Homo sapiens: one gene and its partner. The protein of the gene in region 2 interacts with the protein of the main gene of each other region in a biochemical or structural test. Each region holds a gene or a part of one and is shown on either strand. Other genes may lie near its edges.

Region 1 (15,900 bases), on a different chromosome or scaffold from region 2:
GCACTCCAGCTCAGGGGCGACAGAGCAAGACCCCGTCTCAAAAAAAAAAACTTATGTAACTTCCCCATTTAACTTTGTTTCATATTAAAGAATACTATCCCCACTTCTAGGACCCACCCCCACCCCTCAAAGGCAAACGATTATGTGTTCCTTCCTATAGCAGACAAAATGACCATCTTATATTGGAAAAGTAAGTTATTGCTAAGTAATATTCTCAAATTTTGTTGCAATCAGCTTTAAATGATTCTGATTTGAGAGATATGACCCTTGAGTGACAAAGCCCATTTCACCATTTACACAGGGAAAAAAAATCTCTTTAAAGCACTATATAGTTAAAAACATTGACAAGGAAATTAAATTAGTAGAGCTATCACTTTGATGTGATGTACATGGTAAGATTGTAAATACACCAACTATAATATAGAATTTAATTTTATCTTTATGAAGTATTCTGAAATAAAAGACGATAATACATGCATCAGGCACATTCGACAGAAGACTTTTACAATGGTTTACATTTCCTTTTTATTTATTCCTTGAAACTGCTCGTATTGCAAGTTTTTCACGGATGAAATATGGAACTGAGCAGATTCTTTTTTTCTACAAAATTATGGTATAAACTTGCTCAATTTTCTATCTTATTGCTAATAAACCTTACAGGCGCACAGTTTGTAAAATAAACCCCTTAAGGACTGAATGCGTAGAGCATGCTGCAAGGTACAAGAAATAAGCTAAAAATGAGCATATAAACCTACATCTGGACCAACACAGTACTGAATGCTGGCAAACATTTATCACAACACAGGGGAAAATTAACAAAAGGAGATACAGTTCAGTCCTGAAAGGGTTAAACAGAAACCCTAATATATTATTGTTTCTAACCATCCATCCCACATTACAGTGCTTGAAAACAAAGTCATAAGTCTGGCACAGAAAATTACACACATTTGTTCAGTACTTATCAGAAACACAGCTGCTTTTGCAATCAAAGTAACTTGGTTACTAACTGAACAGCATTTTGTTTCAAAAGGAACCTCCTCCCCAGTGGATTTTCTGGTTAGCATGACTAGTTAGGTTAGTTCTCAAAAATGGCATTGGAAGTTTTTTGTGAAAGCACAGATGGTACCAGTTTCATTAAAAACAATAAAACAAAACAAAACAAAAAAACTAACCAGTTATGATTGCAGATAAGTCTGTGCAGTAAGAGTGACAAACATTTCACGATTAAGTCATGTATAAACATGCCTTTAATTGCCACAGTTTAAAGAAAGTGAGCAGCAAATTTAGATAGTATACTAGTGTTCAACGCTGAAATCACTCAAAATATAAAGGGCATTTTTAAGGCTTTTAGCTTGCCTTCCCAATCTATGTGATAAATTAAATGGAACAAATAAAAACATATTGGATCAGAGACTCAGCTTCTATGTGTATGTTTAGAAACTGCATAGTCATGAGAGCATAAGATACATTTCTAAAACAGAATTTTTTAAAAATTCAAACATACTATAACTGAAGCACTCACCATTCTAATAAGAGAGTCTTTCTGAGGGTAAATGACCAGCATGTCTAATAATGCCATCACTGGAGGAGGGCACACAGTCTACTATAACCAGAGGACAAGGTTCCTATAAATTACATACTGAAAATGATTCACAAAACCATGAAAGAAAAAATGTAAGCAGCTGACAAAAGAACTACTGATAAACAATAAGCTACAATGGACAAATCATTTCACTCTTTAGTCTGTGGTATGAGAATGGCCAAAAATAGGTGGGGAAAAATGCCTGTATAAGTACATTCTTGGACTTTTCAAAAAAAGAAAAGAAAAGGGTTTACAGTATAATATTTCAATTATCTTACGGAAAGAAACTATCAAAATAAAACATACATGTTTGTTAAAAAAACACAAGTTCATTTTAATAAGGTCATGAACTTGAAAAATTATTTTTGAGCTACAAAAATGGGTAAGGAATAGTTTGTTCTTCAAAAGTATCTCTTTTGTTATTGGTTAATTTAATATGATTCCTTAACTAAATACCAAACCTAGGAAGTGGAGGAAACTTGTGGCCGTTAAAGCAAAGCAGCACTAGGAACATGTCCATGCTCTGAACAAAAGCACTGTGTAATGATTCCTGCCATGACTCCATAGAGAGGAATAACTACTACTCAGAAATAAGTGGTCTGTAAGAAAGAGACAGTGAACAATTACAACAAAGAAAGATAAGGCCACAATGAGTTCTGCCCTTGATCACTGAAACAGATTTAAGGTGTGAGGCAGGATTAGCTTATAAGAGAGAAGTGAGTGATTGGAGCAGATTTGAAGAAAAAAGGCGATATAGAATAAAATGCAGCCTGGGGGTGATTAAAAAGGCTTGCAGTAAGAGAAAACCGCAATAACTGATTTAACCACCTAACGTGCTTTACAAATGACCTTCCCCTTGAAAACTGAGGAAAAGGCGATTTAAAGATGTTAGGAAGAATATTTACAGTGGCATAGTCTGAGCATAGAGTGAGTGATGAAGACAGCAAAGCTGGAAAAAAAATGCTACTAATAATAATTTCTAAAAAGTCTATTAATGGAAACTTTTTCAAAACAGCCCAGGACACCAGAAAGACAATGTTCTGTAGGGAAACACTGTAGGAAGTTACAGTTTTGCATTCATAAGGTACTGTGGCTCCTGTTTTATGGGACAGTAAAAGCTTACCACAATCTAGAGGTAGTTTTTACTCTAAGAGGGATGATTGTATTACTAGACTGTGTTGTATAACATTACACACGTGGTTCCTGTACTAAATGTAGCCCAATGAGTCTGCTGCAATTTCGAAGAAACCAAACAAAGGCATAAACAAAGTTCAGGAATGAAAGCACGGTAAAACCGGCGGGGTTAGCAAGCAAGGCCAACCTACAACCCTGAATGCAACCAAATCTCAACTGAAAAGAAAAGAAACATTTTCTGAGTTAGGAGACATTTGTGGAGATGCTCAGTACTGGAAAAGAGAAAACAAACAAACAAAAAAGGCAGAGAAAAAAATGAAAACATAAGTTACATTTGCATTTTATAATCTTACAACTATCTGTTTCTAAAGTACTGTCTTCCAGCTATTTTAGTTGATCATCTAATAAAAGCATCTTATGTTTTAAGATTACAATGATGTTCTGGCTAGGCTACCCCCTCCAACCCCCCAAAAAAGTAAAGATAATAAAACATGCTTTTGCGGACATTTTCCTCATTCTACCATTAAGGGCACCATCTACCAACTGGTAGCAAATACTTCCCATATTTTTTGTCACTTGCCAACAAGGCAGAAAATACCCTGCTGAATGAAATCACTGGGAACATTCCAAGTTCAAAATAAAATGTTTAACTTACACATAATACAAGTTATGTACAAGATTAGGAGGGGGGAAAAACCTGAACAAATCCTGGAACACACCTATGTATTTACGTCATGGGAAAAGGGGAGAGAACACTTCAAATATCAACAAGTTCTGCGCCATTAACTCATTAATAGCTAAATGGCCACACCAAATTGCATGTGAATGTTAGAACCTCTCAGATAACCACAATAAGTCCATATTTTTTTTTAAAAAAAGGAAAACACAGAAATAACTACCAACAGTGTCTGAGAAGAGAGACTAAGTTAACATACATTGCATGTATTGCAGGCAAGGCAGAGGCATTTTTTTAAAGCTTTTGCACAGACTTCATATAATCTTAAAAAAAATATGCAGGCCTTTGCAAGATTTGACTTGCTGAAATCCAAACAATTTTGACTCATGAAAAGTCATAAGACTTCAGCTGAAAAAAAAGAAAAAAGTTCCAGCCTTAGACCAAAAAAAAAAAACCTGGAAGAGTATGATAGATTAAACAAGGATGGTCAGGCTTGGAACCTGAATGTATTTTAGAGCAAAAGCTCAAAGGTGGGTGGGGAAGAGAACAACCTATTTGGTAACAAGGTGTACTATAATACCGTGATATAAAAAAAGGTATGGTGAAAATGTACCTTTTACTAAAGCTTATACAATATACAAGTTCCTTGGTCCATAAAAACTATGTTAGATTTGTGTCTTCTAGTTTGTTCAACTTGTATTCCAGCCACATTATTTACTTCTTGCCCATTTAAACAAAACCAAACAAAAACCAACCAACCAACCAACAAAACAGCTGAAAAACTTGATTTCCAATATTTATACATTTTGATTTTTTTTTCTTTTTTTTTTTTTTTTTTTTTTTTTTTACTGTGGCTTCTGCATTTCAAATCAGCACTTGCAGGGAGACAACGGGGTTTTTGAATAGTATCACCTGGTATGAAAAGTTTTCCCAAGAAACCACAAACGATTGTTCATTTTTTCTCCTTTTTTGTTAACTTTTTGCCACACTCAAGTCAGTTTAAGTCCTAGCAAAAAGACGGTAGTTAGGATACCACTGTGGCTGTAGATGATGTGACACTGGTTGAATTTGTGCTGGCGTTTGTGTAACTTCCCTCGCTGTTTGTGTTTGATTCGTTAGGGGGCACCTGGCTTGAATTGGCTCGAAGGATTGCTCCTGCTGCACTGCAATGTGGCCGCGGCCCTGGTTCTGGTGTGTAGGTAAAGGTAAGGCTGGTGGAATAAATGATTCCATCATTTCGGACCAAAGTTACTGGAACCTGGACTGGTTGCCGGACCCATCTCCAACCTTCTCGGAATGCAGAAATGTCTGGGACGACACAGAGCATACTCTCTCCACACCTGAGGAGGAAATAGAAATCACTTAAAAACACTTTAAAAAGCAAAGTACATGTTAAAAATGAGACTTAACACAAGGTTGTTTAATACATTACAATCAGTGCCAGGAAAGAATCTCCTGTACCCACACCCCTCACAACCTCTGGATGATGCAAAAAGTTTTATCAAGTACCTGTACATAGTTTCAGCTTCTACATCCCCAAACCACACTCGTAAATTTGGAGTGAAATTCTGTCCTGTAAGTTCAAGCATTGCTACGTCCCCACCGCCATTCAACTGCAATTCACAGAAAATCACAACACTGAGAAAACTTTTCATTTTTCATTAAAGTACACAAATTAGATTCTCATTCAACTTTCATTTGTTTTTTTTAAAAAAGGGCAATTAAAATGTTTTTTATTACAAAGCTAGCTAAAAACATTTCAAGATAACATACAAGTTTATTTACATTTAAATTTTCTGGCAAGTACGCTCCTCCTAATTTTGTTTTTTTTTCTTTAAATCAACAAATGGTGTATATAAAAATCCCCTAATCAGACGATTGGAGAAAAATCAAAACTCCCATGAAATGAAATGATGCCAGGTCACAGCTGAGAGTAGCTGCAAAGAGCTGAAGGCCAACTTGGACTAGGCGTTCTCACCTGAAGGCTCTCTACCACAGGCACAGGAGTGACTGGGGCAAGGACAGGGCCCATTCCCTCATAAAATGTATACTCTGCCTTATCTGTGCTAATGATTGTCCAGGAAGCGCCATCATTTATCATCTCTTTATTTGGTTCTTTTGGACATGGAGTGGCCTAATAAAGAAAGAAGTTTAGAAACTAAGTTTTATACAGTTTGTATTAATAGGATAAGAAAATTTTACCAAGTAACCCTCAGACAAGAGTTAATAAGAAGATAACTCAGTAAAAACTTATAAACTTTCTAAAGTATGGTGCTTTGCCAATCCCTACATAAACACAAACAGAATGCTAATACAGAAACCCCATAGACAGCAGTTTTTCTTATAATACAAACTATTTCAGTGACATATTAAATAATAATACCTTTCAGAACAACCATTATGAGTATACCAATGCAGGTACAATTTCATTAACAGCAGATCAATATCTGTGATGTAAATGGCTGTTTAAAACTCTTCAAGGACTCCTAAGAAAGACAATGGGACTCCTCATGCTTAGGCAACAGCTAGAAGCTTATGCATGTTCCATGGGAGGGAATCAAGATGGGAAGGCAAAGCCCCTACCCCTACCTTAACACACCTAGACCAGGGACTCAGCATGCCCATCAGTGTGTATGGGCATCTCTCTGCAAAGGAGTTTCACATGAAACCATAACTGTCTTATTAAATCATCTGCCCATGTCATAACCTCATGAAAGCCTTCTGAGTAAATGTAAAACATTAGCTTTCAAAGCATGTCATCATTACTATCTTCGGAAACCACGACATAAATCTGATGAGATTTTGAGCCTTCACCCAGAAAAATGCTTTGTCTATACAATGTTTGCACACAATTTCAGAGGATTCAATGAGCACTGAAAATCTATTTTTGGATATCCTGAGGGGCTCTTTGTTCTTCAATTAAGAACCCTGGAACTAGATGTTAACTGTTTTCTCTGAGAACATTTTCATAATTTTGAGTTCTTCCTTGAGGAAGGATTGCTTGCATGTCTGAGGATTGTGTGTTAAGGATGCTCATACCTGAGATAAATATCTGTGTATAGCTTCATGTATTTGTATATAATTAACAGCAAATGAAAATTTCATATTTTTGCAAGCTGCTAACCTCACAGTTTGTACATTTTAGATTTCACCAGTAATTTAAAAACATACCTGAAATTGAATTATTCTTTCTTGAGAAAGGCACAAATACATTCTTTCTGTATCCTTAAGGTAAAATGCACATTTATGGAGTTGTGACACAGGATCATCTGCATCCAATAATGCGGTCTGCTTATCAACTTTCCTAATTATCTATATTTAACAATTAAGAAATAAAAGGTCATCCACACATGGAAAGGATTTTCCTTGTGTAAAACATCAAAAGTACATAGAAGCTATATACTGCATAATAATACATCACAGTTATTTGTCCTATGCCTACATATATAAAAACATTCACAAACAAAAAGACTAGGAATAAAAAACACTTTTAGATTGCAAGCATGTCAGAATGTAGAAACTGTTACCCTCTTCCCTGAACATCTAAAAAAAAAAAATCAGGCAGGCAGGCACTTGTTTTCTAGATCAGTGTTTTTCAAACATTAATGTGCACATAAATGAGCTGGGGTTCTTGTGAAAAACACAGGTTCTGATCTAGCAGGACTCTTGTGGGGCCTGATATTCTGCATTTCTAACAAAATCCCAGTTGATGTTAATGCTGCTGGCCTACAGACCATATTTTGAACAGCAAGTTCTAATGATATTTTCCAATAATATGCATAAAATGACAAATACTCCAACATCAAAGGGAAAAATCTCTAGAAGGCTACTGTCAGTGCAAACGTCTTATATCTATTATCCAAAACTTACGTATTTAAAAACATAACAAAATCAAACTCATTTTACAGATTACAAAATGGGCTTAGAAAGGTCAGACAAATTGCTCAAAATTACCAGTTTAGTAGCTGAAGGACCAGAATATGTCCTGATCCCAGGGCTGGCTGCCTGTCCAACTGATCTCTAAAGCTTATAACGCAACTAGTCTACAAAACACATGAATATCTGAAAGATAATACTATCAAACCCTATATGACACTTGACACCTAGAAGGTAATGGCTAAGTAGATGATCATGATGAAGAGCAAAATTTGACACAGAACTTTTACTCTGTTTCCTTTTCTATTGATCACTTCCAACAACATACAAACATAACTATCTCTCATCTCAAAATCAAAAGTAAAGAAAACACTGACTACATGCTCCTGTCCCTCCCTCTCACTACCTGTTTTTCTGCAAACGCCTCTTCCTCACTGTCCAATCTCCTGCAATCTCTCCAACCTTTTATCTCAAAGACGCCACTACAACTGCTTTTCAAAGCCACCAAGGATTTCCAGACAGATGCATCTCACGGCACTTTTCTGTCCTCATTTTACTTCATTTTCTCAGAAGCTCTCAACACATTTTGCTTTCAGGACCACAACTGCTCCAACTGACCTTTAAAATGCCCAGAGCTGAGTTCTCAGCCCTCTTTTCCTCTCTTTATAATCTATACTGTTTAAAAATTTAAAGGTTGACAACTCCCAAATTTATTATCTCCAGACTTCTCTCCTGCATTCAACTTGTATGTACACTTAACTACCTATTCAACATTTCCACTTACGATGTCTAACAGGCACCTCAAGCTTAGCATATCGAAAACAGATTTTTGGATTTCCTCCTAAACTTGATCCTTCCCCAACTCATCTAGGTCAATAAATGGCACTAGCATTCACTCAATCCAAAAACCTTAAGAGTCACCCTTGATGCCTTGCTTTCTCTCACACCCAACCATCCAATCTGCCAGCAAATTCTGTCAGGTCCACTTTCCAACAAATCAGTCACCCCTCACCACCTTAATACTATGATCCTGGGTCTAAGATAGCATCAACTCTTGCCTCAATTATGACAACAATCCAAGCACCTGTCTCTCTGCTTCCACGGCCGCATTGCTATGCTCTCTTCTCCACACAGCAGCCACACATATACTTCTAAACAAAAATAGGCCATCGTGCCCCGTTTAAAATCCTCCAGTGGCCTTCTAACATGCAGAGATAATATGAAGTCCTTACCCTAGATACAGAGAGGGATCCTACAAGGTCTTGCTTAGTGCTAACCTTACAGATTCAGTTCCTGCCACTTGACCTCTCCTCCCTCCGCTCCAGCTCCACTGGTTTCTTTACTAGTCATCATACATCCCCTGCCTTCAGTTCTGTACTTGTTCTGTTTGCCTGAAATGCTCCTCACTCAATTACCGGTTCTTTGACTTCATTCTGGGCTCTCTTCAAATACTGCGACTTCAAAAAGACTTCCCTGACCTCTCTAAGCGCTCCTCCAATTCTCTATCCCTTTATTATCTTGTTTTGTTTTTTCATCACTACATAAATCCTTTACATGGGTATTTGGCTTATCACTCTATCAAAATGTAAACTCAATGACGAGAGGCACTCGACTTTGCATGTCAGAATTCCTGTCATGAAACCCCTGGAAAGATTTATGTATCAGCGTCTTAATAATGGTACTGCAACTTTTTCTAATAAGTTAATTTTTCATTGCAACATTTTTATATAAAGCCATACAGTTTTGAGTGTAAAAACCTCAATTAATGACTTTCAAGCAAGGCAGGCTACTGGTACTTTACAAACAACTGTAAATGAAAACATTGTTTTAAATTTGGGTCTGTCTTCTAAGTGGTTTGTATTATAAACTATTGGTGATCAGAATCATCCTCCTAAGTTGTGCTTCTGCAGTACAAGCATTTAACACCAAAGCAAATGAACATCATCCTTGGAACAGAGGAAATGAATGAGAAGAGAAAAAAAATGAATAAATGCTGATTCAGATTTTTTGCTTGCTTCTGTCTCCTGCTCTGTTTTTCATGCCCTTCATTCCCTAACGTTACCCTTTTTATTATAATTTGTCTCAGCTGCAAAGCTTTACAGATTACTATTACTATACTTCATGTCTTCTAGCTTATTGCATTGACATGGGAAATAAAATCACCTTGTACAATCATGACAGAGGGTAAAAAAAAAAAACAGTAACAAAGAAATGAATCACTGGCTTAGAAAACTGTAGATCAAACCAGCCTCTGCTGAAATGACCCCAGAAAATATAAGCCAGTGGAATATTGCACCAAAAAGATAAATAGGAGGCATGTTTAGGAACATTAATACTAAATGTTCTTCTACTCACCCAACCTCTTCAGTCTGACCTTGAATCAAACTTACTCATAAATCCCCTTCATCTTGAATATAAGTAAATTATATTGTTTGAGAAAAGGAGAGGGAAAATTGGGAGGGTGGTGGCACTATAGAGGACTTTTGTTTTCATTTTACTAACAAAAGTAGTTTTTACAATTTCAAGATCTCCTTTTCTGTGGTTGTTGAGATAGGATCTCATTCTGTTGCCCAGGCTAAAGTCCAGTGGTACGATCACCGCTCATTGCAGCCTTGACCTCCCGAGCTCAAGTGATCCTCCCACTTAAGCTTGAGACTACAGGTGTGCACCACCATGCCTGGCTAATTTTTTTTTTGGGGGGGCGGGGTCAGTGGTAAAGACGGTCTGACCATGTTGCCAGGACTAGTCTCGAACTCCTGAGCTCAAGTGATGCCAGGGCTAGTCACTTCTCCTTCTCCTGCCTTCACCTGTTGAAGTGCTGGGATTGCAGGTGTGAGTCACCATGCGTGGCCGAGTTTCAATGTCTTCTATTGAACAAAAGCCCTAAATCCTATGCCCTGCTCCCAGTTAGAAATACCAATTTTATTTCAGTTTTAATAAATCTATCTTCTTGTGAGAGAGTAAGCTAACAAAAATTACGCTTATATTTCAAAAGAAATAAGAATGTCTTCTGTTTGCAAACTTGGTCCTACATTGGGATATGGCAGGTACCACAAAAAAATGAATACGGTTTATCCGCATTAGTAAAGAAAAGAAATGTAATTTATAGTGCCCTCTACTGAACATCTTCAGATAAACAGCCAAAAAGGAAATTGCCACCAAAATATATTGGAAATCATTTAAGAAAAAATCATTAAGAATGTACTTGTAAAAACTGGCTATTACCTTAAAGCATTTCTGAAATAAGGTAGAGCATAACTGTCAATTATAAACAGCACTGATTACTAACATACCTTTTAAAATTAAAAAGCATAAAACTGAGGTGTGTTTTTCCATTTGAATGTTGTGATTTTCCTGTTTAAGAAATTAATTTTTACTTCACATTATCACTAAAGCAAAAGTAGAGCCATACCAATCTTGGGAGTGCCATGCCAGTAACTGAGCACACAAGTTTGACTGTTTGTCCATAATGGATGTAGCCATCTCGGACTGTGAATTCTTCTCCTTCTGATTCATCATCATCCACTGCAGTAGGTGGAAAAATAAATCAAATTGTCATCTTTTTAAATTTATTTTATGATTAGGCAAATGACAAAACTTAATATATCCATGTATCTCATCAAAAGATTTTAACAATTTCACACTAAAAACATTAAATGCACACTTTTATACTCACAGAGATGAATAAAAAAGGCTCCCCACTGCTGTGAACTGGCATGAAAATTACCTCCTTCTACATGCAAGTATCTGGTACTAACTGTCTGGGATCGTAGTCGATTAAACAGAGCCACCTTTGTTCCTGAGGCAATGCATACTGCAAAGAAAAAACAGCTCTTATTTATGTGATTGGAGCAGAAGGTGGGGAGGGAGCAAAAGAAGGAAATTCTGCTTGGCAGTGTATAATTATTCTTTCTTATCATTTAACAGTTTGACAAATATTTTCACTTTCCAAGACAGTACAGATGATATCAAAAAGTCAAGGTAACTGTTATTAATAATGTCAAGCTAATGATATCAAATGTCCATAAAAATAATTTTAAAGTGAAAGCTACACAGTATGTTTAATGTGGTGCTGATTATTAGAGAAAAACTTACTTTTAAAATAATGTTAGACAGTAGAAATTTAAATGATGACCTATTGAAAGGATGTGTATCTAAACACACTGATAAGAAAATATTTTCCTGGAATATCACTGAATGGAAAAGCAGACTATAAAATACTCTGTATGCTGTGGTTCCATTAGGCAAATGTATATATTTTTAATATGTGTTTGCATCCAATTCCACAGAATACATGCATAGAAAAGGGACCAGAAGGATGTTTGTCAGAGTTGATGGTAAATGCCTCTGCATACTGTGATTTCAGAAAATTCTGCTTTCTTCTAAATAAAGTATTGTATGAAATTTCTTGAAAATAAATCCATGTAAGCAGAAAAACATTCTGAAAGTGAAATATGTTCTCTGCCATCAAGAAACTAATATTCAGTACAAACACAAAGTTAAAGCAGTTACATAAAACTGTGTAATCTGAAATGCAAATAGCCTGAATACAAGACATAATATACCTCCTAGTGCAAGAGAGCACACCACCACCTTTGAAGCAGGTCTTGCTTTTCAGAAAGAAAACAAGAACCAAAGGACAACAAACTTAAATCTGATCACCATTCTACACTAAAGATTCTCTCCTTGACCATACTTTTAAGCAGGCTGCTCTGAGCAATCAACTAGTATTTGTCCTTGAGCCCCGTCATCAGTCTGTTTAGCTCAGTTATATATAGTAAGAATCCTCCTAAACTATCTCCCACTCTGGATCTATGATCACCTTGGCCTGCCTTTAGCAGGAATCCTAAGTCAGGTCAGAAAGAAACCTTCTACCTTTGATGTCTCCTTTTAGAAAGTTTCCATCCATTGACCCTCTCACTCTGCTTCATCCCCAAGTGTCTTTGTTGTATTCTGAAATGGAACTTGGTTCTATTTTCCCCTATTGCAATAGTACTGAATGAAATCTGTCTTTCCAACTAGGCCCACGCTCTATTTCTTTTTGACTCTACCAATTTACAGAAAATACATTAAACTATACCAAATAAATGAAATCAGCAAAATCTAGTACGTGGAAATCTCTAGTGACTAAATGTTTCAACTTACTTAAATAAATTGCAAGAGTTGAGGGGGTGTCCATAGATTATACTCAAGGACATATCACAATATAAACTGTACTAAGTGGTAGATCTGAATTTTGATTCAAGCAATCTGATTTTTAAAATATTTTAGACCATTTTAAATTTGAACACTGATTGGATATGCATCAAACTAAAATAAGGGCAGAAGAAAGTGGGGCTGGAGTACAGGTATAGATGAAGATAAGATTGGTTGAATGTTAAGATCACTGTTGACGTTAGAGAATGAACATAAGAGGTTTCACTGTATGGTGCAACTCTGTCTACTTGAGAGTGTTTGAAATTTTTCCGTAATAAAAACTAAGTGATATTAGTGGACTGAGTGGACTAAAATATAACCAATACAAAACAACAACAATAACAACAACCACAACAAAAACCATGATCTCATAATAAAACAAAATGAAAAGAAAGCAAACAAAACAAAAACCCTAAAACCCCACTGGTCACTTTCAAGGAATGTTATTATTCTGCAAATGAGTAAACAAGCACCTAATCCTGCCTTTTCATTACATATTACAATTGAAGCAAATAGCTGATATGGCAAAGTCCCTCTTTGTAGAAAAAACTCCAGCTAACGAATGCAGAAGTTAGAATTTAAAAAATTAGAATATCACCATTTTGCAGCATTTAATGAAATGGATTTAAACATCATCAATGACTATTAAAACCATTAGGTTAAAGTTTGCTGAGGAACTTTATGGGTGGAATAGACTTACAACAGCTGAACTACTATAATCAATCTCAACATGACCAAAAAAAAAAAAGGGGATAATCAGATATTATGACTTCCAATCCAATGGAAATAAATGTATATCTTACCAATCAGTTCTGAAAGTCTTTATGTCTAACCACCAGTTCATGGAAAGTAAGAGAGACAGAGAAACATATAATCAGCCAAACCCAGAATATGGAATTCCACAACAGGAAAAATGATCCAGTTTCTTCAACAAATAAATGACATAGAAGGAAAACAAAGGTGAGAGAGGGTGAGAAGAAACTATTACAGACTAAAATGTGTGGACCTTATCTGAATCCATGTTTGAACAAACCACTGTAAAACAAAACAAAGCAAAAAAACTATAAAAAGACATTCTGGGTCAATCTGATAAATCTGTACATGAAATAGGATATTAGATGACACTTAAGAGCTGCTGTCAACTGTTACGTATAATGATGTTTCAAAAAAAAGGGCATGTATTAGTCACTATTGCAGAAATTTTGGTTGAAAGGATAGGATGAGATTTACATTAAAATACTCCAGCAATTAGAAGACGAAGAGGTGTTGGTGGTGATGGAGATAATGAAACAGAATTGATAAAACCTGTTGAGGCTGGGTGGCTAATTTCTCCCTTTTATATAAATTTGAAAGTCTCAGCCAGGCATGGTGGCTCACGCCTGCAATCCCAACACTTTGGGAGGTCGAGGTGGGTGGATCACCTGAGGTCAGGAGTTCAAGACCAGCCTGGCCAAATGGCGAAACCTCATCTCTACTAAAAAATACAAAATCAGCCGGGCGTGATGGTGGGCACCTGTAATCCCAGCTACTCAGGAGGCTGAGGCAGGGAGGATTGGTTGAACCCGGGAGGTGGAGGTTGCAGTGAGCTGAGATCCTGCCACTGCACTCCAGCCTGGGCGACAGAGTAAGAGTCCATCTCAAAAAAAAAAAGAAAAGTCTCCATAATAAAAAGTTAAAAAAAGAAAAATGGGTGTGGAGGTTAAATTTATAATTCAAACATACTTGTTTGGTAGTCTAAAAATAGGCTGATGAGACAGCAGTCTCTGCCAGAGCAACCACATTAAAAATTGTGTTTAGATTCTCAGGAAGGCCTGCCAAAGCCCATTTAGTTGGTAGCGTTTTTCAAAGGGGTACTTGTTGACATTGTGGGTAGATCAATTCTTTGTGGAATGGGAACTACCTTGGACACTGCAGGACATTCAATTCAGCACCACAGGCTCAAGACACCCAAAGCCAACATCACCCCCTCCAGTCACTGTAACAACAGAAGGAGAAAATCTCCCATTTCCCCAGAATGTCCCTGGGAGCATTAAGGAACCAACTCTGGTTAAGAACTGCTTCATTAGACCACATACTGTCGATTTACGATTAAAAAAAGAGAGACAATAAAGAGGGCCACAAAAATATTAGTAAAGAATTAATTGGCTATTGAAAAGGCAATTTTTAATTTAAAAAAGAGTCTGTCTTATTAATTCATGGTGGCAGTTGGGGATAAATAAGAAAAGCATACATACAGTCAGCATTTTTCAATGACTGCTTCTTTTTGGAAGGTTTGGAGATGACTTTTATCCGCTTGCTGAGGAACACACCAATGTCATCACTGTTGCCATAGAACATCTTTACAGACAACATGAAGTGCTTTCGCTTGTCTGAGTCAGATATATACAATGTTTTGGCTGTGCAATAGTTCTGTGAAAGAAAAGTAAAGTTTTAACAGCAGCAAAACCTTGTTTGTTTATGTAGTACCTAAAACTCAGAATGGCCATGGTTTAAGTAATAAGTAAAACAATTCCAAGGGATAGCTGATAAAACCAACTCTAAAAATTATCAACTATAAAAATTACTGAAATTGATTTCGGAAAAGTACAAAGTCTTCCTTATAAAGTCTGTAGAACACAAACATTGTCATCTATTGTATCCTCTTTAAAAGACCATTTAAAAAAACAGCCTTTTCTTGTTTTACATAGCTCTACAACTGTATCATGGAATTATCACTCAACGTTACAGCAGTAACTTTTAAAATAAATTTTACAGTTAAAAAAAATCAATGACTTTCTCCAAAAAAAAAATAATAATAAAGCTATCAGAATTCAAGAAATTATGTAAAAGATTTTAGCAGTAGTTCTTCTCAAAATAGTGCATAAAATATTTTTCTTTATATAGCTGAACACTAGAGTAATCACTTATAAGATTGAGGAAAACAATGATAGACAAACTGGATGATTATAAAATATCTTAAACCAGAAAGAGATTATATAAGCATTACTTTAAAGAACTATTTTTAAAATGGTTAACTTTGCCCAAAAGGACGATTCATATGTATCACCAGAAGAACTGAATTTAAAGGTACTAGAGAAAATGCTCAAGGCATTATGTCAGTTTACCAGAATTTAAATTCTGATAACTGAAAAGATAAAGAGATATAGCACTTTACAAACAGCAAAGACCCTTCAAAATGCTACTGCTTATATTATATATAACAATTCTAAAATCTTTCCTATTCTCTTGATCCCTGTGAATCAGGGAGGGGTCTAAATTATTGTCCTTTTCCAGATAAGATAAATGATGCTGAAACACAGCATAAGTATCTAAAGTATCGAATTATATTTTTTAAAGGATCAACATTCCACTTTAAAATTAAGCTAAACAAGTTTCTTCAACTGCCTCTCCTGTATCTTCCTTTTAAAAAGCAGAGCAAATGCTACTCAGGAAACAG
Region 2 (16,490 bases):
GCATGCCTATAATCCCAGCTACTCTGGAGGCTGAGGTAGGAGAATCGCTCGAGTGAGTTCACTGCACTCCAGCCTAGGTGACAAAGCCAGACTCTCTCAAAAACAAAACAACAAAAAAAAGAAAGTATATTGATGGGTAGTTTGTGGAATACTTTATTTTTCCATTTTTAAATTTTTTCTGTTTTATTAAGGGAATCTTAATTGGGTAGCACACTAATGAGTTCACCATTTTTAAAAACTGCAGCTGGTATCTGTTATGAAATTTGGTATGCTTTATAAAATAGCTTCCTGAATTTGTCATAATAGCTCACAGTTTGCTAATAGCAACAATGGTTATGCCAAATTATTCTATTTCTAGGCTTTTTTTTTGGTCAAAACATAGACTGTCAATAATAAGGAGTCTCTAGATTATATGCTTCGTTAATGTAGAATTTAAAATATTAAACTGTGTACTTAAAAACAATTGGGTAAAAAATGTGTTTTTTAGTTTAGTTTTGTTTTGTCTTAAAGGTAATTCTGTTTTGTTGTTGTTGTTTTGGGACAGAGTCTTGCTCTGTTGCCCAAGCTGGAGTGCAGTGGCATGATATTGGCTCACTGCAGCCTCCACCTCTCGGGCTCAAGAGATCCTCCCACCTCAGCCTCCCAAGTAGCTGGGACAACAGGTTTGCACTACCATGCCTGGCTAACTTGTGTATTTTTTATAGAGACAGGGTCTCACTTTGTTGCTTTGGCTGGTCACGAACTCCTGGGCTCAAGCAATCTGCCTGTTTTGGCCTCTCAAAGTGTTGGGTTTACTGGTGTGAGCCACTGCACCCAGCTCTAAAGGTAATTCTGTAAGTGGCAAAGGATATCAGTTTAAGTTACAATAATTTGACAATGTTTAATCCCTTCACCTTCCCCAATTTTATTCTCTGAAATTCTACCTCTTCTTTATTTTTGTTGTTGTTTTTTGATTTTTTGAAACGGAGTCTTGCTGTGTCACCCAGGCTAGAGTGTAGTTGCGCGATCTTGGCTCACTGCAGCATCTAACTCCTGGGCTCAAGCGATGCTCGCACCTCAGACCCCCTGTAGCTGGGACTACAGGTGTGCGCCACCATGGCCAACTAATTTTTGTATTTTTTGTAGAGAAGGGTTTTGTCATGTTGCCCAGGCTGGTCTCAAATTCCTGGACTCAAGTTTTCTGCCTGCTTTGGCTTCCCAAAGTGCTTGGATTACAGGCATGAGTCACCACACTTGGCTTCTACCTAGTCTTTAGAGCTCAGCTGAAATGCTTGTCTGTGAACCTTCCTTATACTAGTTAGAAGCCATCTCTTTCTTTCTTGAACTGTTAAGGCTTCTTGTTTTGTCTCATAGGTCATTTATTATATAATGTTCTGTGTTGGTATTATTAATTTATGTGTCCTTGGCCCTTAGTGGGTCCATCTGTTTGACAGCAAATAGTGACATATCTTCTTTTTGTACCCTGTGTGGGATCTAAGCATAATATATTTTTTCTTTTTGTGTTTTTAATATTTGATAGCAGTCAAGCTTGCAATAAGCACGGTATTTTTACATATAGCAAATGTTTCATTGATATTTGTTGAATGCACGGAGTAAGGTAGAATTTTTTATTTTATCCTTTTTCTACTTTCTATAACTTTTTCATTTGAGTTGATAAAATGATAACCGTGGTATATTCATAAGAAGGCTTATTGTCTTAGATTGAATCACTTTATGATCTTCTTTAAATCTCTCATTCAACAGTATATTTTCAAGAGTAGCATTTAGTACTTAGCCTACATTAGTGCTGCTGAAGTGGTTCACTTTATGAGTTCATAATGACATCTGTTCAGGGTTGCTGCTTTGTCCCTAAAGCCTCAGAAGCCCTCATGCTGTGGGATGACTGTGGGTTCCTCCATTCAGTCCAGTCCCTTCTTCTTTTTATTTTTCTCTGCTCCTCCTTCTTGTCCCTTATTCTTTTTTTTTTTTTTTTTTTTTTTTGAGACAGAGTCTTGCTTTGTCACCTCACCCACCTTGGAGTGCAGTGGTACGATCTCGGCTCACTGCAATCTCCGCCTCCTGGGTTCAAGGGATTCTCCTGCCTCAGCCTCCTAAGTAGCTGGGATTACAGGTGCACACCACCACGCCTGGCTAATTTTTGTTTTTAGTAGGGGTCTCACCATATTGGCCAGGCTGGTCTCGAACTCCTGACCTCAAAAGATCCGCGCACCTCAGCCTCCCAAAGTGCTGGGATTACAGGCGTGAGCCACTGCGCCCGGCCCTGTCCCTTATTCTTTAGTTAGGTCTCAGTCCTTTATTTTATTATCTATCGGTAAGAAGTTCCCTTAATTACTTTTTTTGTTTGTTTGTTTGTTTTTGAGACGGAGTCTCGCACTGTCACCTGGGCTGGAGTACAGTGGCACGATCTTGGCTTACTGCAACCTCTGCCTCCCAGGTTCAAGCGATTCTCTGGCCTCAGCCTCCCGAGTAGCTGGGATTACAGGTGCCCACCACCACGCCCAGCTAATTTTTTGTATTTTTAGTAGAGATGGGGTTTCACCATGTTGGCCAGGCTGGTCTCAAACTCCTGACCTTGTGATTCCTCCGCCTTGGCCTCCCAAAGTGCTGGGATTACAGGCGTGAGCCACTGTGCCTGGCCAATTACATTTTTTAACCTTTTGAATTTGTGACAAATACGTTTGATTGCATTTTAAATGTTCAGCTTCCTTTTAGGTAAATGAAGTGTATTCCAACTTTAATAAAGATGTGTTTACCACAAGAGGATTGTCAGATGTCTAGTTGAATAGAAACCAAAGGCAAAAAACTAATCAAATATTGCCCTCAAATCTGGCAATGGCTTTTAAATGCATAGCAGTTTCATTCCCATGTTGAAATTCTTTTGAGTTGATTCTTTCTAGGTTACGGATTTTCTCCAATGAATTCAGAGTAGTTTCTTGATATCTACTATCTTTACAAAATCTTCCTGAAGTAAGTGGGGAACTTTCATTACTTAGGGAGGTTTTTGTTTCTTACTCTGTGTGACTTATGCTAGGTTTCACAGCATTAAAGCTAGAAACAGTGGCCACATCTTCCAGTCTCAAAATCTTAACCTTAATTTATACCTCAGAAGGGTAAGGCATTCAGACTTTAGAAACTGATTTGTGTTTAGTTATATGTAGCATAGTTTTTTTTTTAGTTTTTAAAATTTTTTTTGTATTTTGAGACAGAGTCTCGCTCTGTTGCCCAGGCTGGAGTACAGTGGTGCGATCTCAGCTCACTGCAACCTCCGCCTCCCAGGTTCAAGCAATTCTCCTGCCTCAGCCTCCTGAGTAGCTGGGATTACAGGCATGCGCCTGCACGCCCAGCTAATTTTTGTATTTTTAGTAGAGACGGGGTTTCCCCATGTTGGTCAGGCTGGTCTTGAACTCCTGACCTCATGATCCACCCACCTCAGCCTCCCAAAGTGCTGGGATTACAGGTGTGAGCCATCACGCCTGGCCTAGTATAGTAGTTTTTCGGAAGAAAAAGATACTACTGGGCCAAATAAATAGTTTCCTCTCTGGCAGCAGACTCTCAGGCCAGTATATATACCTTAAAAGGTACAAAATTCCATAAACCAGAGATTTGTATTAATTCTGACCAATAAAATATTTTGACAACATCTAGTAACATATAAAGGTAGGATCTACCATTTTCTGGATATACTAATGATGTAATTTTTTTTACATGTCCCAGGTAGCTGGGATTACAGGCGCCTGCCACCACGCCTGACTAATTTTTGGTGTTTTTAGTAGAGACAGGGTTTCGCCATGTTGGCTAGGCTGGTCTTGAGCTCCCGTCCTCAGGTGATCCACCCACCTCGGACTCCCAAATTGCTGGGATTACAGGCGTGAGCCACCACGCCTGGCCTAATGATGTAATTTCTATTATAAAATAACTACTGGGCACAGTGACTTATACCTGTATTCCCAGCACTTTGGAACATTGGGACAGGAGGATCACTTGAGCCTAGGAGTTCAAGGCTGCAGTGAACTATAATTGTGCCACTGCACTCTAGCCTGGGCGACAGAGCAGAACCCTATCTTTAAAAAAAAAAAAAAAACCCTTGCGAGCTCAGCACAAAGGTGTTCTGAGTAGACATGTCAATAAACCTTACACTCATTTGAATGCCTAGTACTAAGAAGACAAAGATGCCTAGGCCAATGGTCCTGCCTCCAGGGAGTTCAGATTCCAGTACATTCATTCAGTCACGTTGGGGAAGCTGAGAAGGTGTAACACAAATGTGAAGGGTGAGAAGGACTTCTTTTAAACAGTTTCATGAAAATTACATTCATTGAGTTAGTATGCTTACGTGTGAAAAGTTTGTAGGGCTTCTTTTGGCATGAAAACAAGAAAAACTCAGAGTTTCAAAATGCCTCTATATCCTTGGGGGAATATGAGTGATGATTTTATTACCTAATCATGGAAGTGAAAAAGAAGGGCTATGCAAATTGGTGTTGGGCATGTAATTACAGAGGAATTGCATCTGAGCTCACCCATGTGTGTTCTCCTTGGCATCTGTGGCTAGGGCCAAGTTAGCAAACATGCCCTCAAAGGTATGGGGTTTGATGTTTTTGTGGAGGGTGTAACAGTTGAATGGTGGAAATTGCTTGACATTGGCTATTACAGCAGTATGAGTCTCTTTATGTTGGCTTGCTATTGTATTTTAAGACAATTTGGAAAGAGAATGAGTTGTTTTATTGAATCAAATTTATTCTGATTGGGAAAAATAGTAATGTAAATAAACTTTTGCAGCCTCCATTGATTCATTTTGTTCTGCAACAGACCTTAGGCTTATAGTCTGTCAAAATGTTGTGCAAGGGAGCAACTATTTAATTTAAATGTCAACCATGCAGCCAAAGTCAAGGAATCCATTTCTTTGGGCTCTTTTCCTTGGTGAATTTAGAGCTGAGTGGAGGTTAAAAATATAAGAAAGTTAGGCTGGGCACGGTGGATTACTTGAGGTCGGGAGTTTGAGACCAGCCTGGCTAACATGGTGAAACCCTGTTTCTACCAAAAATACAAAAATTTGATCATGCCACTGCACTCCAGTCTGGGGCACAGAGCGAGACTCCCATCTCAAAAAAAAAAAAAATTAGCTGGGCATAGTGATGTGCGCCAGCTACTTGGGAGGCTGAGGTGGGAGAATCACTTGAACCTGGGAGGCAGAGGTTGCAGTGAGCTCAGATCGTGCCACTTCACTCCAGCCTGGGTGACAGAGTGAGACCCTATCTCAAAAAAATAATAAAACAAAAAATATATATGAAAGTTAATAAATCAGTGAAGTTAGCCAGTAGGAAATGATAATATATAAGGGAACAAGTAAGAGGGACTATGGGAAGTGATATTTTTTCCAGTAATAAAAGGCATGGTTTGATTTTTTTTTTTTTTTTTTTGACATGGAGTTTGCTCTTGTTGCCCAGGCTAGAGTGCGGTGGCATGATCTCGGCTTACTGCAACTTCCACCTCTCCAGTTCAAGTGATTCTCCTGCCTCAGCCTCCCGAGTAGCTGGGATTACAGGCATGTGCCACCACGCCCAGCTAGTTTTTTGTATTTTTAGTAGAGACGGGGTTTCACCATGTTAGCCAGGCTGGTCTTGAACTCCTGACCTCAGGTGATCTGCCTGCCTTGGCCTTCCAGAGTGCTGGGATTACACGCGTGAGCCACCATGCTCGGCGACTGTACGTTTTAGGATAGGAATTTGGGCTGGAAATGGAGGTCTCTGTTGTTTGAAAGGCCTCCCTCTAGCGAGTCAGTCATGTTGAAAAACACCTTACCCACGTGAGCATGGAAAGAGGCATAACTATCTAGGATCCTTTTTCTTTTTCTTTTTCTTTTTTTTTTTAAGATGGAGTCTCACTCTGTTGCCCAGGCTAGAGGGCAGTGGCGCAATCTCGGCTCACTGCAACCTCTGCCTCCCAGGTTCAAGTGATTCTCCTGCCTTAGCCTCCCGAGTAGCTGGGACTACAGGTGCACGGCACCATGCCCGGCTAATTTTTGTATTTTTAGTAGAGACGGAGTTTCACCATATTGGCCAGGCTGGTCTCGAACTCCCGAGCTCGTGATCCGCCTGCCTAAGCTTCCCAAAGTGCTGGGATTACAGGCGTGAGCCACCACACCTGGCCTAGGATCCTTTTTCTAATACAGTTTTCAGGAAACCCATTATAATACTCTTCTCTGCTTTTGGGGAATGAAGGGAATTGCTCCTTTCTCACTGTCAGTGCCTTTCCCCCATACCACCAGGTGGACTTAAGCCACTCCAGTCCTTCCAAGTAGCCACCAATTTGCTGATTATCACTAAGATTCTAATAGCCACTTTGCTAGGAAACATTTGTAGTATCATAAGCTTTCAGCCAGTTTGGTAGATAAATTATCTGGGAAGCAATTTTATGAGTTCATGTTTTCATTTTCCTTAATGTGATTCTTCCAGTTTTAAAAGATGTTACACATAATTAGTGCATGAATTACTGCAGTGGTAGAGATGAGGTAGGAGGTTTCTGTTCTCTGCTCTCCCCGGTCTGTCACTTTTTGGAACATTTCAGATCTTTCTCAAAGCCCCAAAGTATATTTCGAGATTACTCTTCGTTTCCTTCCCCACCCCCCGCCAAATCCAGCTTTTCCCAATTTTGGGAAGACCCTTCTTATTCTTCCTTTCATCAGTGCTAGAGGGAATGCTGGAAATTTGTAAAGTGGGGTGGCATAGTAAATGGTCTGGGTAGAGTGTGTGGAGCAAGAGAAATAAATGTATTAAAAAATAATAAAATTATCCCTTCAAAAGGACTTACTGTCCATCTGTAAGGAGGCTGGCTGAAGCTGTTAGCTCCTTTAGGGTCTGCCTCAGCTTTGGAGCCTTCTGCCAGTGGTTGAGCGAAGCAGTGATTTAGAGCCTTGCCCTTTCTGCCCAGTACTAGATTCCCCTGAGTGGCCGTCTTTGCTCCCGAGCTCTCTGTTGGACAGGCTTTGTCAGGTCTGCATTGTGGTCTGATGGCTCCTCTTGCCCAATCCTGCTGCTTCTGCACTTCTTCCAGAAGTTACTTCCCATTAAACTTTTTCCATTCTGAATTCTGTCTAGCATCTGCTTCCTGGAGAATCTAATCTGCAACACAGTTCTTACATAAAACACCCTATTTCCTTCATTTTACTGGTTTTACCTCAGACTTTGTGTATAATGTCATAGGAGTATAAATGAGATGCCTGCCTCTATGTGTATGCTTTCTTTGTAGAAAATTTAGGAAATACAGATAAGCAGAAGCAAGACATTTTTAAAATTATTAATAATATTCCCACTAGAAGTAACTGCTGATAATGGCTTATTTTGGCAACTTTATTTATTTATTTAAGACGGAGTCTTGCTCTGTCGCCCAGGCTGGAGTGCAGTGGAGCGACCTCAGCTCACTGCAACGTCTGCCTCCTGGGTTCAAGCGATTCTCCTGCCTCAGCCTCCCGAGTAGCTGGGATTACAGGTGTGTGCCACCACACCCAACTAATTTTTGTGTTTTTAGTAGAGACGGGTTTCACCATGCTGGCCATGCTGGTCTCGAACTCTTGACCTCAGGTGATCCACCCGCCTAGGCCTCCCAAAGTTCTGGGATTACAGCATGAGCCACTGCACCCGGCCAGTATTTTGACAAACTTTAGAGAAGTGCGTGAGTATTCAGCTCAGTAAATTTTTTACAAACAAAAAACATCTGTGTAACCAGTACCCAATCAGGAAACAGAACTTTACTAGTACCTCAGATACCTCACTTGTAACAGCATAAATTTTGCCTCGTTTTGAACTTGATATAATTGTAATCGTATAGTATATATTCTTCTTCTTCTTTTTTTTTTTTTCTTCGAGACATGGTCTAACTCGGTTGCCCAGGCTGGAGTCCAGTGGTGTGGTCATGGCTTCCTGTAGCCTCAAACTCTTGGGCTCAAGTGATCCTCCTGCTCAGCCTCCTGGGTAGCTGGGACCACAGATGTGTGCCAGCACACCCGGTTAATTATTTTTTTGTAGAGATGGTGTCTCACTTTGTTGCCCAGGCTGGTCTCAAATTCCTGACCTCAAATGATCCTCCTGTTTTGGCTTACTAAAGTGTTGGGATTATAGGCATGAGCCACTGTGCCTGCCCATTCTTCTGTCTTCTGTTTGTTTGTTTGTTTGTTTGTTTGCTTGTTTGAGATGGAGTCTTGCTGTATTGTCTAGGCTGGAGTGCAGTGGCCAGTCTTGGCTAACTGCAACCTCTGCATCCCAGGTTCAAGTGATTCTCCTGCCTCATCCTCCCAAGTAACTGGGATTACAGGCACATGCATCACCAAGCCTGGCTAAGTTTTGGATTTTTGTTTGTTTGTTTGTTTGTTGAGACGATCTCACTCTATTGCCCAGGCTGGAGTGCGGAGTGATCTCTGCTCACTGCAACCTCCACCTCCTGGGTTCAAGTGATTTTCATGCCTTAACCTCCCTAGTAGCTGGGACTGCAGGCATACGCTACCACGCCCAGCTAATTTTTGCATTTTTAGTAGAGATGGAGTTTCACTGTGTTGGCCAGGCTGGTCTTGAACTCCTGACCTCAGATGATCTGCCTACCTTAGCCTCCCAAAGTGCTGGGATTACGGGTGTGAGCCACTGCGCCCGGCCTAATTTTTGTATTTTTTAGTAGAGACGGAGTTTCACCATGTTGGTCAGGCTGGTTTTGAACTCCTGACCTCAGGTGATCCGCCCGCCTCAGCCTCCCAAAGTGTTGGGATTACAGGCGTGAGCCACTGCATCCGGCCTTCTATCTTCTTTTGCTTAACATTATGTTTGAGAGATTTATTTATATGTATATAACCTGTGGTTCTTTGCTCTATATTTCATGGCGAATGTACCACAATTTATTTGCTCTGTTGTTGATAGACATTCATGTTGTTCTAGTTTTTTACTGCCTGGATCTCTTAATGATTCATATTTTCTATTGTAAATACTGCCTTGTATTTGGTATTTTAGCAAGTGAAGTCTATTCTTGGAACATTTACTATCTTTTTTTTTTTTTTTTTTTTTTTTGAGAGTCTTTCTCTGTGTCCCAGGCTGGAGTGCAGTGGCATGATCTCGACTCACTGCAACCTCTGTCTCCCAGGTTCAAGCAGTTCTCCTGCCTCAGCCTCCTGAGTAGCTGGGATTACAGGCACGCGCCACTACACCTGGCTAATTTTTGTATTTTAGTAGAGATGGGATTTCGCCATGTTGCCCACGCTGGTCTCGAACTCCTGACCTAAGGTGATCTGCCGGCCTCAGAATCCCAAAGTGCTGGGACTACAGGTGTGAGCCACTGCACCCAACCAAGAACTACTATATTTTGTAAGTGGAAATAACCACTATTAAAAACAGAATGCTATAAATAGAATGATGTCTTTTGTTTCTAAAGTTGATGTACTAGAGCGATGTGAAAACAGTAACAAAAGAGATATTTTGTGGCAAAGTTATCTCGGGGTAAACACCACAGTTGCAGGCACCGCTGGCAAGTATTCTCCGGGCAAACAGGAAAAAGGTTAAGTGAATCGTCTTGCATAAAAGTTTAGAAAAACTGTTCTTTCTTTTCTTTCTTTCTTTTTTTTTTTTTTTTTTGAGATGGAGGTTTGCTCTTGTTGCCCAGGCTGGAGTGCAGTGGCATGATCTCGGCTCACTGCAACTCTGCCTCCCAGGTTCAAGTGATTCTCCTGCCTCAGCCTCCCGAGTAGCTGGGATTACAGGCATGTGCCACCATGCCCAGCTAATTTTCAATTTTTAGTAGAGACGGGGTTTCTCCATGTTTGTCAGGCTGGTCTCAAACTCCCAACTTCAGGTGATCTGCCCGCCTCGGTCTCCCAAAGTGCTGGGATTACAGGTTTGAGCCACCATGCCTGGTCGAAAAACGGTTATTTCTTAACCCATATTCTCAGAATGTTATTACTTTTTGCAAGACCCAGAGTTAGTTTTTCCTTCAAAATTTGAGGTCTTAGATCATTGTTACTGGCCAAGGAGGCTAGTTGCTCTTCCCTTTGCTGTCGGTCAGTCAGATCCTTGAGTTAGAAGAATTGTTGGAGAACAAGTTTTCTGGTTTACGATTATACCAGAACTTGGCTGCCACTCTGGTTTTCAGTGAAGAGAAAAAATGTAATCAAAAGCCTTTGGGGATGGGCTTGGTATTTGAGCTGTACCTGTCGAATTAAGGTGGCTCACAAGTGGTATTGGAAAGTGCTGAAGAGCAGATTTCACACTGAGAGTGGAAACGAAATTACAAAGAGCTTGGATGTACATGCCTGAATTGTTTTTGAGCTGCTTTCAGTGGAATACTGATATTTATGTTTTACCTATTACAGCTGTTGAGTGGAATGTCATGGCCAGCTCCTCGGACAGTGAAGATGACAGTTTCATGGCTGTGGACCAGGAAGAAACTGTGCTGGAAGGGACAATGGATCAAGATGAGGAGCCCCACCCAGTATTGGAGGCTGAGGAGACTAGACATAATAGGTCCATGTCGGAGCTGCCAGAAGAGGTTTTGGAGTATATCCTGTCCTTTCTCTCACCGTATCAGGAACACAAAACTGCGGCCCTTGTCTGCAAACAGTGGTATCGACTTATCAAAGGTACTGTGGATAGGAGAAAGGTTTATTTATTGATTTCAAATTTCACTGATTTATTTTTAGACTCCAAATTTAGTTTTTTTCCTCCCTTAAATGTATTATGGTTATAAAATCTAGCATTAGACGATACTACCCGGTTTTCTTTCTTACCCTGGTTAGTTTAATGAACAGCTTGAATACTGAAGTATCTAATCCCATTTGCATTTTAAAATGAGGATTGTTTTTAAAAGCTTCATATTCTTAGAGTTGATCTGGTTAATTGTATTGTTCTTTTCTTTTTTTTTTTTTCAGACGGAGTCTCACTCTGTCGCCCAGGCTGGAGTGCAGTGGCGCAATCTCGGCTCACTGCAAGCTCTGCCTCCCGGGGTCATGTTATTCACCTGCCTCAGCCTCCAGAGTAGCTGGGACTACAGGCGCCTGCCACCACGCCCGGCTGATTTTTTGTATTTTTACTAGAGACGGGGTTTCACTGTGTTAGCCAGAATAGTCTCAATCTCCTGACCTCGTGATCCGCCCGCCTCAGCGTCCCAAATGGATTAATTGTATTGTTCTTGAATGGGCAAAATAGAAATGGATATGGGATAATAGTAATAGCCAATGTGAACATAGCTTTTATCACGTGTCAAGCACTATTGTAACTGCTTTACATTCTCACAGCAAACTCTGACTAGAAGATCCTGCATTTTATAGATGACAGAACTGAGTGAAACACAGTTAACTTATTTACACGGATAGTAAATGCAGGATTAAAGATTCACGTTCAGGCGATCTGGCTTTAAAGTCCATGCTCTTATTAAGGCTACAGATTGTCTCTGAGTAGCTACTTTTAGCAACTGCTTTCTTGAAAACATTTGTCACTTGATTTTATCTCTAAACAGCAAAGACCCTATATACATCTTTTACTTTTTAAAATATGTTTCTTGGCCGGGTGTGGTGGCTCACACCAGTAATCCCAGCACTTTGCGAGGCCAAGGCAGGTGGGTCACCTGAGGTCAAGTTCGAGACCAGCCTGGCCAACATGGTGAAACCCTGTCTCTACTAAAAATACAAAAATAAGCCAGGTGTGGTGGTGGGCACCTAATCCCAGCTACTCGGGAGGCTGAGGCAAGAGAATTGCTTGAACCCAGGAGGCAGAGGTTGCAGTGAGCCAAGATCACGCCACTGGACTCCAGCCTGGGCGACAGAGCAAGACTCTGGTCCTTTTTTTCATCCTTTTCCTAATCAAGATTTCAACTTTTTGCTAAATGTTTAGGTGCTAGACATGCTGTATTTTTAATTAGCAGAAAGCAGTTAGTGGCTTCATTGCATCTTAAGTGGAAAGGGCCCATTTTTTGTTTGAAGATGATCAATCAAGTGGAGTCATTTTTTATCAAGCGAGGGTTGTCTCAATGTGTTCTTTCCTGGGGGAACAAGGCAGCCAGAGATATAACAGAGAACAATCTTTAGATCAAAATCAATCAGTTTTAAAATGTTTTCCTTGCATCAAGGTGGTTCTCATGGAGTCCTTGTCAACTCCCAAAGTCCACCTAGAGGGCTAAGAACCAGCTGTATTGAAACTGCTCTGTTGGCCCTGTGCTCATTTGATTATAACTGCCAATACTGGCACACACAGCCTGCTTCTATATTCTGAGTTGATGGGCTCTTCAGGAGAGATTGGCTCCCTGCAATGTGGAAATACATGGTTTCACTTCTCAAATAAAGGGAGGAAAACCACAGGTAAGGGACTGTGATTTAATCAAATATATGAATTTATCCTTAGGTTTTCTTTGGCAGTCTTATTTTGGTTTTCTTTCTTTTCTCTTTCTTTCTTTCTTTCTTTCTTTCTTTCTTTCTTTCTTTCTTTCTTTGTTTTCTTTTCTCTTTCTTTCTTTCTCTCTCTTTCTTCTTTTCTTTCTTTTTTTTTTATTTTTATTTAGAGAAGAACCCTACCCTAGTACTCACAATCTTAGATCGATCTTTCTGGCAGAAGTCACTGACAAGATAGTTTTGTTTGTTTGTTTTTAATTTTAGTAGACTTTTTTTTTAAAGAGCACTTTTAGGTTCACAGCAAAATTGAGTAGGAGAAACAAATTCCTCTGAGCGGACACAGTGGAACACGCCTGTAATCCCAGCACTTTGGGAGGCCAACGTGGGCGGATCGCCTGAGATCAAGAGTTCAAGACCAGCCTGGTCAACATGGTGAAACCTCATCTCTACTAAAAATACAAAAATTAGTGAGGCATGGTGGTGGGTGCCTGTAGTCCTAGCTACTCGGGAGGCTGAGGCAGGAGAAACGTTCAAACCTGGGAGGCAGAGGTTGCAGTGTGCCAAGATCGAGCCACTGCACTCGAGTCTGGATGACAGACAGAGATTCTGTCTCAAAAAAAAAAAAAAGCAAAACAAAACCGATTTCTCATATATCCCCTACCCTGACACATGTATAGCCTCTCCCATTATCAACATCCCCCACCAGAGTGGTACATGTGTTAAAATTGATGAACCTATACTGAAACATTCCATAAACCCAAATTCCATAGTTTACATTAATGTTCATGCTTGGTGTTGTGCATTCTATGGGTTTGGATGAATGTATAATGACACATATCCACTGTTATAATATCATAATAGCTTCACTGCCCTAAAAATCCTGTATACTCTCCCTGTTTATCCTTTCCTTCCACCAACCACTGGCAATCACTGATTTTTTTACTGTCTCCATAGTTTTGCCTTTTCTAGAAGGTCATATAGTTGGAATCATACAGTATACAGCCTTTTCCGATTGGTTTCTTTCACTTAGTAATATTTGCATTTAAGTTTCCTCCTTATTTTTTGAGACAGAGTCATGCTCTGTTGCCCAGGCTGGAGTGCATTGGTGCGATTTTGGCTCACTGCAACCTCCGTCTCCCGGGCTCAAGTCATCTTCCCTCCTCAGCCACCAGAATAGCTGGGACCACAGGTGTGCACCACCATGCCTGTGTAATTTTTTTAAAAAAATGTTTATAGAGACAGGATCTTGCTGTTACCTAGACTGGTGTGAAACTCCTAAGCTCAAATGATTTTCCTGCCTCAGCTTCCAAAAATGCTGGGATTACAGGTGTGAGCCACCGTGCCCGGCTTCCTCCATTTCTTTTCATGATTTCTTAGCTTTTTTTTTGTTAGTGCTGAGTAATATTTCATGTCTAGATGCACCACAGTTTGTTTACCCATTCACTTACTGAAAGGGCATCTTAGTTGCTTCCAAGATTTTACAATTATTAATAAAGCTGGTGTAAGCATCCATGTGCAGGTGTTTCTGTGGACATAAGTTTTCAGCTCCTTTGGGTAAATAAATACCAAGATGCACAATTGCTGGATCATATGGTAAGAGCATCGTTAGTTTTGTAAGGAACTGCCAAACTGTTTTAAGTGGCTGAACCATTTTGTACTCCCACTAGCAGTGAATGAGAGTTCCTTTTGCTCCACATTCTCACCAGCATTTGTAGTAGTAGTTGGAATTTTCATCATTCTCATAGATGTGTAGTGGTATCTCATTTTAATTTGCATTTCCCTGATGACAAATGATATGGAGCGTATTTTCATGCGCTTATGTGTTACCCACATACCTTCTTTGGTGAAGTGTCTGTTTCAGGTCTTTGACCCATTTTTTATTTTATATATACATATGTATATATATATATATATATATATATTTTTTTTTTTTTTTTTGAGACAAGATCTTGCTCTGTCACCCATGTTGGAGCACAGTGGCATGGTCATAGCTCATTGCGGCCTTGACTTCCTGGACTCAAGCAATCCTCTCGCCTCAGCCTCCCAAGTGGCTGGGACTACAAGTGTGTACCACCACACCCAGCTAATTTTTGTATTTATTTATTTATTTTTGTAGAGATGGGGTCTCACTGTGTTGCTCATGCTGGTCCTGAACTCTTGGGCTCAAGCAATCTTACCACCTGGGCCTGCTAAAGTCCTGGGATTATGAGCCACCATGCCAGGCCTTTGACCCCCTTTTTTTTTTTTTGAGACGGAGTCTCACTCTGTCGCCCAGGCTGGAGTGCAGGGGCGCGATCTCGGCTTATTGCAAGCTCCGCCTCCTGGGTTCATGCCATTCCCCAAAGTGTTGGGATTACAGGCGTGAGCCACCGTGCCCGGCGTTGACCCATTTTTTAATTGGGTTGTTTGTTTATTAATGTTGAGTTTTTTTGTTTGTTTGTTTGTTTGTTTTGAGATGGAGTCCGGCTCTGTTGCCCAGGCTGGAGTGCAGTGGCACAATATTGGCTCACTGCAACCTCCACCTTCTGGGTTCAAGCAATTTCCTGGCAATTTTTGTATTTTTAGCAGAGACAGGGTTTCACTGTGTTGGCCAGGCTGGTCTTGAACTCCTGATGTCAAGTGATCCACCAAATAAATAAATAAATAATATTTAATTTATTTGAGCACCTGCCCAAAGTGCTAGGATTACAGACGTGAGCCACCGCGCCTGGCCCTAATATTGTTGAGTTTTAAGAGTTCTTTGGATATTCTATATAACTGTCTTTTATCAGATATGTCTTTTGCAAATACTTTCTCTCAGTCTGTGGCTTATCTTCTCATTCCCTTGACAGTATTTTTCACAGAGCAGAAACTTTTAGTTTTAATGAATTCTGGCTTATCAGTTATTTTGGGGAGGGGATAAGGTCTTGCTTTGTCACCCACGCTGGAGTCTAGTGGCGTGATCAGGGCTCACTGCAGACTCAACCTCCCAGGCTCAAGCAATCCTCCAAATTCAGCTTCCCAAATAGCTGGCACTACAAGCACATGCCACCATACCCAGCTAATTTGTTTTTCTTTTTTTTTTTCAGATGGAACCTCACTCCATCACCCAGGCTGGAGTTCAGTGGCGCAGTCTCAGCTCATTGCAACCTCCACCTCCTGGGTTCAAGGAATTCTCCTGCTTCCACCTCCCAAGTAGCTGGGATTACAGGTGCATGCTACTACGCCCGGCTAATTTTTTTTTTTTTTTTTTGAGATGGAGTCTTGCTCTGTTGCCCAGGCTGGAGTGCAGTGGTGTGATCTCGGCTCACTGCAAGCTCCTCTCCCGGGTTCACGCCATTCTCCTGCCTCAGCCTCCCGAGTAGCTGGGACTACAGGCATCCACCACCACACCCGGCTAATTTTTTCTATTTTTAGTAGAGACGGGGTTTCACTGTGTTAGCCAGGATGGTCTCGATCTCCTGACCTTGTGATCTGCCTGCCTTGGCCTCCCAAAGTGCTGGGATTACAGGCGTGAGCCACTGCGCTCGGCCAATTTTTGTTTTTAGTAAGAACAAAACCTTTTTTAGTAGAGTAGGTTTTACCATGTTGACCAGGCTGGTCTCAAACTCCTGACTTCAAGTGATCACCCACCTCGGCCTCCCAAAATGCTCGGATTACAGGTGTGAGCCACTGCACCCGGCCACACCCGGCTAATGTTTTAAAAAATACTTTGTCGAGACAGGGTCTCCTTGTGTTGCCCAGGCTGGTCTTGAACTCCTGGGCTCAAGTTATCCTCCCACCTTGGCCTCCCAAAGTGTTGGGATTACAGGCGTGAGCTACCATGCCTGGCCATTCTTTCTTTCATGGATCATGCCTTTGGTACTGTGTATAAAAAGTCATCCCCAAAGTCAAGGTCTTCTAGATTTTCTCCTGTTATCTTCGAGGAGTTTTATGTTTTACATTTAGGATTGTGATTCATTTTTAGTTCATTTTCATGGAAGATGTCTAGATTCATTTTCTTGCATGTAGATTTTAATTTATTTCAGCATCATTTTTGGAAAAGGTTTTTTTCTTTAAGAGATGGGGTTGGCCAGGCGCGGTGGCTCATGCCTATAATCCCAGCACTTTGGGAGGCCAAGGTGGGTGGATCATGAGGTCAAGAGATTGAGACCATCCTGGC

What was found.
Region 1: the proteins of FBXO42 (region 2) and RBPJ form a complex in vitro, tested with the Homo sapiens proteins (one study listed by BioGRID).

Annotation. Positions count from the first base shown.
Region 1 is NC_000004.12:26,419,524-26,435,423, reverse strand, and holds the end of RBPJ (recombining binding protein suppressor of hairless), read right to left. Parts: intron 14,874-15,900; coding exon 14,699-14,873; intron 11,083-14,698; coding exon 10,945-11,082; intron 10,794-10,944; coding exon 10,681-10,793; intron 6,705-10,680; coding exon 6,564-6,704; intron 5,527-6,563; coding exon 5,371-5,526; intron 5,006-5,370; coding exon 4,902-5,005; intron 4,733-4,901; coding exon 4,417-4,732; 3' UTR 501-4,416; downstream 1-500. UniProt on the Homo sapiens protein: Transcriptional regulator that plays a central role in Notch signaling, a signaling pathway involved in cell-cell communication that regulates a broad spectrum of cell-fate determinations.
Region 2 is NC_000001.11:16,309,285-16,325,774, reverse strand, and holds part of FBXO42 (F-box only protein 42), read left to right. Parts: intron 1-9,047; exon of another isoform or gene 9,048-9,338; intron 9,339-10,339; 5' UTR 10,340-10,356; coding exon 10,357-10,606; intron 10,607-16,490. UniProt on the Homo sapiens protein: Substrate-recognition component of some SCF (SKP1-CUL1-F-box protein)-type E3 ubiquitin ligase complex. Specifically recognizes p53/TP53, promoting its ubiquitination and degradation.